Regions from separate parts of the Homo sapiens genome. Here region 1 is linked to region 2. Evidence: fine-mapped expression QTL. A gene starts in region 2. The other region holds a variant in brackets. All regions are shown on one strand. Distances are from middle to middle.

Region 1 (5,380 bases), 45 kb before region 2:
CACATTATAGGACTCACAACTAGGCCAGGTAAGCTACACAGCTCATTCTAGGATATAGTGGAAGATAAGGTAGAAAAGGTAACCAGAGTCAGACTGCAGAAGAGTCCTGTGATGGTTAATTTTATGTGCCAAGTTGACTAAGCTAAGGAATGGCCCAGACAGCTGATAAAACATTTCTAGGTGGGTCTCTGAGGGTATTTCTGCAAGAGATTAGCATTTGAATCAGTAAACTAAATAAAGAAGACCCACACTCACCAATGAGGGTGGGCGTCATAATCTGTTTACCCTTTTCCACCCAGAGAGAGCAAACGGCAGAGGAAGAGCAAATTCACTCTTTCTTCTTGAGCTGGGATATCCATCTTCTCCCACTCTTGGACATCAAAGCTCCTGGTTCTTGGGTCTTTGGACTCCAGGACTTACACCAGCACACCACCCCTTCCCAATTCCCAGGCCTTCAGCCTTGATTCCCCTGGTTCTCAGGACCTCAGACTCCAACTTAATTACACCACCAGCTTTCCTGGTTCTCCAGGTTGCACATGGCCTATCATAGGATTTCTCGGCCTCCATGATCACATGAATCACATGAGCCAACTTCCATAATAAACCTCCTCTTATACCTATCTATGTATCTATTATATATATAAAATAAACCTCTTCTATATCTATAGATATAGATATGGAAACTTATTATGAAGGTTTTGGGGTTTTTTTCCTTGTTTTTTGTTTTTTGAGACCGAGTCTCCCTCAGTCACCCAGGCTGGAGTGCAATGGCGCAATCTCAGCTCACTGCAACCTCCACCTCCTGGGTTCAAGTGATTGTCTGCCTCAGCCTTCCAAATAGCTGGGATTTACAAGTGCACACCACCATGCCCGGCTAATTTTTGTATTTTTAATAGAGATGGGGTTTCAACATGTTGGCCGACCTGGTCTCAAACTCCTGACCTCAGGTGATCTGCCCGCCTCAGCCTCCCAAAACGCTGGGATTACAGGCATGAGCTACAACGCCTGGCCTATAGAGGTTTATTACAGAAATCCATCTATCCAGGCCGGGCGTGGTGGCTCATGCCTGTAATCCCAGCACTTTGGAAGGCTGAGGCAGGTGGATCACGAGGTCAGGAGTTTGAGATCAGCCTGGCCAACATGGTGAAATCCCGTCTCTAATAAAAATGCAAAAATTAGCCGGTCGTGGTGGCAGGCGCCTGTAATCCCAGCTACTCAGGAGGCTGAGGCAGGAGAATTGCTTGAAACCGGAAGGCGGAAGTTGCAGTTTGCAAGATAGTGCCACTGGACTCGACTGGGCAACAAGAGTGAAACCCTGGGAAAAAAAAAGAGAAAAAAAGAAAGGAAAGAAATCTCTCTCTCTCTCTCTGGAGAATCCTAATACAAGTCCAGAATGACAAGCTAAAACTTGGAACTTTCCTTGTATATGATGGGGTATTTTGCGAGGATTTTTTATAATGCATGAGAAAAGTCAAAGTAAGGCTTTATAAATATTAATATCATAGCAGTAGGCAGGAGAGACTGCAGCGAACCTAAAGGTAGAAAGACCAGTTACTATTGCAGTAGCCCAGGCATGGTGGGGTGTTAAGGGTTGGCAGTAAAACCTGACCATAAGGGGCTTAAGAGTTTAATACCCTGAAATCCTCTATAAAGAGTCTATCTCCGGCATTCATTCTGAGCTCTCTATCATGTTTACAATAAAGAAATCTCTTCTCTGAATCACATTTTAACATTTCAATCTTCAGCAGGTTTATAAGAAGAAAGTGGAAAAGGCAGAAACAGCTCTCTTTATTATCCCCAACAAAACAAAAGTCTTATAGCAGCCTTTGTGGCCTTGGATTGTATCCCTTTAAGCAAAAATAAATCAGAAGTCCTCTTATGCTCTGGGATTAACCTCCTTCCAATGACTACATGCTGTCAGTTACAATCTACCTATTGCAGATAGGAAGCTTCATTGTAATAGCAAATTTCTGGTTGAAGAGCTTGCTAAGGTCCAATCCCAAACAGCTTTGTGGCTCTAATGCCGTAGTTTCAGAAAGCAATACTTTCCAGATGCATGCTGCTGACTGCTGCAATGCAGGAGGACCTGGCACTTTATTCTGGGCTACACAAACAGCACATCTGATTGTTTACTGGGTCCCACTGTGTACTACATACTGATGACACAAAGATGATTAAAATAGCCCACCTTCAAAAAAGCCACAGTCTATTGGGAAATATACACAAAAAAGTAACTGCAGGCCGGGCGCGGTGGCTCATGCCTGTAACCCCAGCACTTTGGGAGGCCGAGGTGGGTGGATCACAAGGTCAGGAGTTCAAGACCAGCCTGGCCAACACGGTAAAACCCTGTCTCTACTAAAAATACAAAAATTAGCTGGGCATAGTGGCATACACCTATAATCCCAGCTACTCAGGAGGCTGAAGCAGGAGAATTGCTTGAACCCAGGAGGCGGAGGTCACAGTGAGCCTAGATCATGCCACTACACTCCAGCCTGGGCAACAGAGCAAGACTCTGTCTTGGAAAAAAAAAAAAAAAGTAAAGTGGCAAATGCTATTATAGGTAAGTATGTAAGAAATGCTTTGAGAATAATAATAATAGCTATATTTATGAAGTACTTAGTAATATGCAAGCCCTTTCAATGCATTTTCCCTACATTAATTCACTTAACCCTCACAGCAAGACTAATATTACTCATTTGTTATAAATGAGAAAACTGAGACACAAAAAAGTTAAACAGTTTCATCCCAGTTATATACAACTACCTTAATAACAAAGGCAGTCTGGCTCCAAACTCAGGGATTTTAACTTACCACTATATTGCCTCTTTCCCC[C/G]CTCCCACCCTACCCCCTCCACTGAGACAAGGTCTTACTCTGTCACCCAGGCTGGAGCACAATCATGGCTCACTGCAGCCTCAAACTCCTGGGCTCAAGTGATCCTTCTCCCTCAGCATCCAGAGTAGCTGAAACCACAGGCATGTGCCACCATGCCCAGCTAATTTTTTTAGTTTTTGTAGAGATGGGGTCTTGCTGTATTGCCCAGGCTGGTCTCGAACTCCTGAGCTCAAGCAATCCTCCCTACTTGGCCTTCCAAAGTGCTGGGATTACAGATGTGAGCCACCACACCCAGCATTTTCTTTCTATTTTTTTCAAAGAGACAAGGTCTTGCTATGCTGCCCAGGCTGGCCTCAAGCAATCCTCCTGCTTCAGACTCCCAAGTAGCTAGGACTGTGGGTATATACCTCTCACCAGCTTATATTGCCTCTTATAATGAGGGACTAACTAATGTTGCCTTGGATGGCAGTTAAGACTAAAGAGAAAAGAGCGTAGAAGATATATTTGAGACAGACCACTGAAGAATCACCAGGAATTCACCAGACAGACTAGATGTTTGGGGTGGAAGGCTGAGTGCTTATTAGCAGGGAGTGCTTGAGGGGACAACCCTCTAAGCAAAAAGAAGGCAGGTACAGCAACAGCAGGTCAGGGACAAAGGTATGAGATTTAGAGTACAGGGTGCAGTCACAGAACAGTCAGTAGTCTGCATATACTGTAGGACCCATGGGTCCCAGAACAAGAGGGGAGGCTCTAAAGATGACTGTGGTGTAGTGGGCCTTGGAGGCTTTATATTTCAGGTAAGAGAGACCCATCAGAGGCCTTTCTGCTGAGTGATATGAGCAGATCTACCTACTATAAAGATAACTCAGGATGAAAGGTACAAGATGGCCAAGAGGCCAGGAGAGCAATTAGGAGATTACCACAATAATTGTGTCAAGAAATGATAAGGAGTGGTTGGATGCAAGCACATGTTTCGGAAGCACAATCAACAGTACTTGATAGGCCAGGTGTGGTGGTTCACACCTGTAATCCCAGCACTTTGGCAGAGGTGGGAGGATCACTGGAGCCCAAGAATTCAAGACCAGCTTAGACAACATAGTGAGACCCCATCTCTATAAATAATTTTAAAATAAATAAAAATTAAGATGTTTAAAATGAAAATACAAAATAACAGTACTTGCTGACTGGTTGCATATGAAGGATAAGGAAGACAGGCAGACAGGCAAAGCTATCCTGAGGCTCTTTTTCTGGGCAGAACAGGACAAAAAGGGGATCAGCATTTAAAAGGAATAATAATAATAGCAACTAATATTTATTAAGATATTAGTATATACCAGCACTATGCTAAATACTTTTACAAGAATTATCTCATTTAATATTGATAAAATAAGTTCATTATCACCCTTTCATAAATGGAGAAATGGAGGCTTAAAGAAAATAAGTAGTTTATTCACGGACACAGTCACTAAGCACTGAAGCCACAGAAAGACTCTGACTTTAGATAAACTGAGTTTAAGATATCTGGGGAGGCATCCAAATGTAGATTTCTAACAGGCAGCTCAATATTTTTGTACGAACTTAAGCTAAGAGTACCACAGATACAGATTTATAATAACAATGTAACTATACTGTTGTTACTATTCCTATTATTAGCATTTATTAAGCACTTAGTGTACATGAGACACTATTTTAAATGTTTTACACACATTATTCATTTACTCCACACAATCCTGAGATAGGTAGCTCTAGTCTCCCCACTCTTACTTACAGAGAAAGAAACAGAAACATAGAGACAAAGTAAATCATTCCGTGTCTCTTAGGGAGAAAATAATGGAGCCAGATTCAAATCCTGGTCTCTCTGGTTTGGATGAGGGAACAGAAGAGAAGGTGGGGCTACAGGTGGGTTGGATAGAGGAGCCAAGGACAAAATCCAGAAGAATATAATCGCTTAACAAGTAGGCAGAGAAACAGGCACTATCTCATAGGATGGTTGTAAAGATAAGTAAAAGCACACAAAGGACTTGGCTAGGGCCACAGTTTGAATGTCTCCGCCTCTAAAAGTCAGATGTTGCCAACGTGATGGTATTAAGAAGTCGGGCCTTTAAGACATCATTAAGTCATGAGGGTTCCTCCGTTCATGAATGCAATTAGGTGCCCTTAAAAATGGGCTTGATGGAGGGAGTTACTCCCTTTTTGCCCTTCTGCCTTCTGCCATGTGAGGACACAGCATTCAAGGCATCGTCTAAGAAGCAGAGACCAAATCCCCATCAATGAACCTGCCAGTGCCCTCCCAGCCTCCAGAACTATGAGAAAATAAAATTCTGTTATTTATAAATTACCCAGTGTCAGGTATTCTCCTATAGCAGCACAAAAGAACTGACAGCAACCAAAGCTCTATCAGTTTGGAGGATGTGCTACAGGATGAGGAGACAGAAGAGAACCAACAGGGAAGTAGATATATTAAATGGAAAAGGATTAGTTAATAAAACAAAGTCCCTGGATTAAGAAAATGTGGCACATATACACCATGGAATACTATTTAGCCATA
Region 2 (5,380 bases):
GAATTAAGCTTCACTCATGTAGTCAGAGTAATTTAAGCAGCAAAAGATATAGCACTTGTAACTGTAACTAGGAAATTGCACACTGCTACAGAAACACAAATGAATGCTGGTGTGGCTCCTTCACACATGCAACTCATTGTCCAAGCCATTTCAGTCTCATTCAAGACTTTGAATATTTCCATACATAGGAATTGCACAACTGCATACCACAAATGATCAAAGATAAAAACCAACATAAACAGTGACACCCGTTTGTAAACAAGCCAGTGTTTAAAATGCTGCAGTCCTAAAGGATACCAAGGTCTCAGAGAAAAACTATGAAAAACACACGCACGCACATATACACACACATGAAAATTAGAAAGCGGGCAGACCAGCCATAATTAGGCACTGGCTTTGCTGACTACTGAAGATAGAAATGTCTCTTTTATATTAAAGCCAAGAATCAACTGTTTGCAATTACATTTACGAAAACATTCAACCCTGTCTGTAACAGATTTTATCAATATTTTGGTGTATCCAAGGGCTGGAAGATTCAAAATTCTTTAAATCATGAAACCATAAACCAGGCAACCAATTAAGTTCATGGAGACTATCCCCCAGAGGTCAGAGCAAAATAACCACAGGAGCACAAAGTGATTACACAGAAAATAGGCAGAAAAAAAGGAAAGAAATAGCAAAACAAGGAACAAGGCATATTGTTTGTAAATGTAAGTTTGCCTTGGCTAATAGTCAACTAGACTGGAAACACGGTGAGGGGCTGGGGTGGCAAGTGAGGAGCACACCAAAGTCTTGGCTCAATCGACTTCCCCTGACTTCCCCTCAGGGTCTGAGGGAGCCCTGGACTTTGGTATCTCATTCAGCTCTGACCTGCAGACTGGAGGCCCTGTGATAAAAACGGACAAAAAGGCTGAAGAGGGCCCTCCAGAGGAAGTGAAACTGACCAATCAATTCGCCACAGCCACCCACCCTGACACCCTGGTAAGAAGGGCCCCTTGTAGCCTCAGGCAGAAAGATGGTGGGGAAGGAACTTCAGGTTGCAAGTGATCAGGAGAGAAGGCCTAGATAAGTCACTGGCTTCAGAAAACAAGCCACTGCCAAAAAAGCAAAAACAAGGTAGGTCATGACAACCAGAGGCTAGGCTGAGGAGGTGAGGGGAATTGATGTGGCTTTGGTAGGAGGCGGCAGCAGCTGTAAGGGTTCTTCATTCCTCAGGCTGAGGGAAAACACAAGCTGCAGTTCTAAACATAATGAATGACTACATTAAAAGTATTCATTCAAGTAAGATATTGAGCAAAGAAAATTTTAGAGTAAAAATGGGCTTTGCGGGTTCCACCAAAACCAAAAGATTCCTCCTGATGTCTTAGATTCCAGTCCTCCCAACGAAGGCTACATGAAAGTGCTACCATATTTCCTCAAAGAATTTTACATGCATACATATATAGCTTCCTAATTGACCTTGGCCAATTTCACTCCTATAGCGCCTCAAATCCCTTTGAGAACTAAGGGCTCGATGAGTGTAATCTCCCGGTGTCTGGGTTCTTCAATCACAAGCTTCCCCCCAACCAGTAAAAGCCCACCCTGGGTTCTACAAAGCCCACAATTCCCGACCCTCCAACAACTAAAAATAACCAGCAATCAGCTCTCCCAAATTGTTTAACCCCTGACTACCTAGTGCCATCATAAACCTGGGACAGCCCCCACCCCCACCTCACTCCCCCATTCCCTGGGCCCCTTCCTGTGGACAAGCAAAGCAATTTCCCCCTTATTTCCCCATTTTCCTCATTGCCTCCTCCACTAATCGTGTCTCCTCGGGATCCCCTTCGCACCATCTATCAGTCTTAGATGATCAAATGCGGATTCCTGTCTCTGTCTTAAGGCACCAGGATCCTGGGACCTCCCAGCGCCCTGCAGACGTGCACATTCCCAGTCCGTGCCCCAGCCGTCCTGGGTCCCCTTACAAGCCCGGGTCTGCCACTTCACCCTTGTTTTTCCCCATCCTCCGGGTCCACATTTCATATGCCCCTGCCCTCATTCCCTTATGATTCCCTAGCTGCTGGTTCCAGAGTCTTCTGGGCTTACAGTCTCCCGGCCCTCGGGGAGTTCCGACCCCTTCTTTCCAATCATCCCCTTTACCCGCCTGCCCTCAGCCCCGAGGACCCCTCCCCGCGCCCGGCTCCTGGGCGCCGGTGCTCTGTGCCCTCGGCCCCCTGCTTGGAGTTCCGCCGTCTCGAGTCCCAGGTGTCCCTAGCTCCGCGCCCGCCCCGCCGCGGCTGGCTCCCTCCCGCCTCCCGGCCCCCAACGCTCCCACCACGCGCCGCGCTCGCCGCCCCGACCCCCCGGCTGGGGGGCGCGGACCTCTCCCGGCCCCGCCACGCTCCGACTGCCGCCTGGCCCCTGCGCCGGTACCTTGGCCTTGGTGACGAGGTGCGTGGCCCGCTTGACCACCGCGAAGTTGCCCTTGCCGATGGTGCGGTCGATCTCGTAGTAGCCGATACGGGCGGGCATGGGTCCGCGGGAGGCCGGGGCTGGGGGACGCGGCTGGCCGGCCGCAGGGGACACGGCAGCGGGGGCGGCTGGGGACCCCGGCGCGGGCGGAGGCAGCAGGCGGCCCGCGGGCCCGGCTCCCCCAGTCCCGGCCCCGGCAGCCCCGCCAGCTCCGCTCGCCGCCGCCGCCGCCATCTTGTTGTGCAGTGAAACCTCCGGGGCCGCGGGGAGCCGGCTCGGGGGAGGGGGCAAGGGGGGGCGGGAAAGGGGGGGCCGCGGACGTCACTCGGGGAGGCGGGGCGCTTTCGCCGACCGGCGCCCGGCTCCATGGCAACCGCGGGTCACGTGCCGACGCGCGTCACTGCCCGGAGCCATGGCAACCGTGACCTCACCGGCGGGCTCGACCTTCCCGCGTGGGCCCCGGTTCCTGAGGCGCTGGCTCCCGGGTGCCCCCCTCCGGGAGCTGGCGGTGGGAACCTTCGATGGGCCCCCAACCTCGAAGTCTCCGCCACCTTTCCCGAGTGGGGGGCGCAGGATGCCCGACCCAAAGCCAACCCCCCACCGCCGCTCGAATCGCCAATGTGACCTCTGCTGTGACCTCTGTCCCAGTTCAACGATCACCCAACCTCCCTTAACAAAAAAAAAGTGTTTCCTCATCACCAAAAATACCAGCGTTGTCCCACTTTAGCCCTTGAGGCCACAAATGCAGGAATAGCTACACTCTTGAAGCAACTGTAACCAAGTTGGTAACAACGCAGGGGAATTCTTCGGTAAAATTCCTTCCTCTTACAAAATCCAGCTCACCCTGCACAGTCAACCTAATTGTCACCGAATATAGGAGAATGGGGAAACTAGGATTTGCGTGTTCAAGGGCGGACAAGCCAGTCCAAACAGGCATTCCAGTCATTGGGTGGGTGACAGCCAAAGAAGGTACGTCATTTTCCTTCCTACCACCCCCATCTCTGAACAATTCTACAGGGATGTCTGTCAGAGTGCCTACATACTATTTCTGTTGCTTGTATAACCCTGATGAAGCAGTGGTGCGCATTGTCCAATGAACCACGTCGTGTTTAAACAACAGTCGGTTAAGCAAAATAAATAAGTAAATAATAAAAATTCCATCCTTCCTAGTGACTCTCCGAGGACATTGAGGGTCATCAAGTTAATAACTCCAGCAATTTCATATCTCTTTTTCTTCCCTTGCCTATTACCTGCATCCTTCATAGCTCCCAGGCTTCCTCCTCCTCTCTCCCCTTCCCTTTATTAAATAGATTAACTTAGCTGCTTTAGGTGAGGGTTGCAGGTAGGAAATCAGACTGTCAACAAAATAGTCTTTGGCAGGCTGGGTGGAAAGGAGGGAAGATTGTGAATATTCCAATGTTAAAATGTATTCCTTTGGACTAGTCCTGATCCATCCATATCTATGTCTCTCTCAATGGTAGAACTGTATTGTGAGGTCACTGCATGCACAGTATTAAAAACTGACACCCAGGGCACTGTAAATGTGTGGAAGGATAACTCGTGTTTACTCGCTGACCAAAGAACACCTCCTGGTGCTCCAATTCCCTATCCAACCATGAGTAATGGCTGGGACTTAAGATGGGACAGAGGGGTCATCCCACAATGGTCTTGGATCTATTCCCTGGTAGCTGTTCCAAACTGCCAACACAATTAACACTAATTGGCTCCCTTATTAGCAACTAAAGATAAGAATGAAGTGGGCCTTGGCTTCTTGCATTGGTTAAGCCCTTTCATCAGCTGAGCTCATTCCATCCCAGATAAATGATGGGGTGTGACCTGCCTCTCCTATCACTTCATGGCTCTCAGCTGCCTCTAGCAGGGACTATAACTTTGGTGCTGGGCTTCACAGCTGCAGTTTTTGGGTTTTTGTTTTTTTTTTTAGACAGAGTCTCACTCTGTCACCCAGGCTGGAGTGCAGTGGTGCAATCTCAGCTCACCACAACCTCCACCTCCCAGGTTCAAGCCATTCTCCTGCCTCAGCCTCCCGAGTAGCTGAGACTACAGGCGCACACCACCATGCCCGGCTAATTTTGTATTTTTAGTAGAGACGGGGTTTCGATATGTTGGCCAGACTGGTCTCGAACTCCTGACCTCGTGATCCCCCCGCCTCAGCCTCCCAAAGTGCTGGGATTACAGGCGTGAGCCACCGTGCCCAGCTACAGCTGCAGTTTTACCATCTCCCTGGGTGTCTCAACAGAAACCTTAGCTGGCTAGTAAAGCAAATAAAAAAATCTTTCACTGTGGAAGCTGCAGGAGCAGCACTGAAACCATTCTTACTGATGACTGTATGATCACAGAGTGTCCTCCACTAATGGAGGTAATTCGAACATCAAATATCAGAACTTTTGCTACTCTCTCAAGAGTGTCAAAAACAAAAACAACTCTGGGAAGGACCTAGAAAATGCAGCATTGTTCTAATTTCCACAGAGAAGAAGCAGATGACTCTTGTCCCTCAATAATGACCAGAACATATGCTGTGTGCTGTGTGTTATGTCACTTACGCTCCTTTCCTGTATAGATTGAGGTCACTAGATGGTGTTTCTGATTGAGACTTTGGTAGAGACTTGCTGGAGATCTCCTTGAAGAATAGTCCTCTTTGGCACAAAGAATATAGAAAATTAGAGAAGGGAGTAATCAAAGGAGATCATCAGGCAAAAAGGAAAATAGTTTAGATGTTTACGTTTAATAAGGATTTATTGAGTACCAAGAACTGAGTTAGGTTCTGAGAGAAACTCAGAGGAAATAGCAATCTGCCACGCGTTATGCTAAACAGTGTACCTAAGGGAACTCACTTAATCTTCACAACAACCTAATTAGATGGTTTGTATTATATCTCTATTTTGCAGATAAGGAAAATGAGGCACATAGGGAT

Which allele goes with the higher level. Alleles are on the strand shown, and positions count from the first base shown. SD is a standard deviation of normalised expression in the study named.
As copies of G replace C in region 1, the expression in aorta of the gene that starts at base 2,695 in region 2 goes down (small effect, 0.27 SD a copy in GTEx).

Evidence for each region. PIP is the estimated chance that this variant, and not a neighbour inherited with it, causes the effect. A credible set is the group of variants that fine-mapping cannot tell apart.
Region 1: its variant is the best candidate, but not a certain one, in a credible set for the expression of SIK3 in aorta (GTEx, PIP 0.65).

The regions. Positions count from the first base shown.
Region 1 is chr11:117,050,818-117,056,197 of GRCh38, forward strand. The region is part of intron 1 of SIK3 (SIK family kinase 3); the gene reads right to left. Among named protein-coding and RNA genes, the nearest start is that of SIK3, 45 kb to the right of the region's middle. The variant C/G (reference allele first, on the strand shown) is at 2,833.
Region 2 is chr11:117,095,734-117,101,113 of GRCh38, forward strand. It overlaps SIK3 (SIK family kinase 3), which reads right to left and starts at 2,695. Exons shown (of 25, transcript NM_001366686.3): 1 at 2,410-2,695. The coding sequence starts at 2,682. RefSeq lists an enhancer at 1,203-1,252 and silencers at 2,574-2,623, 2,704-2,883.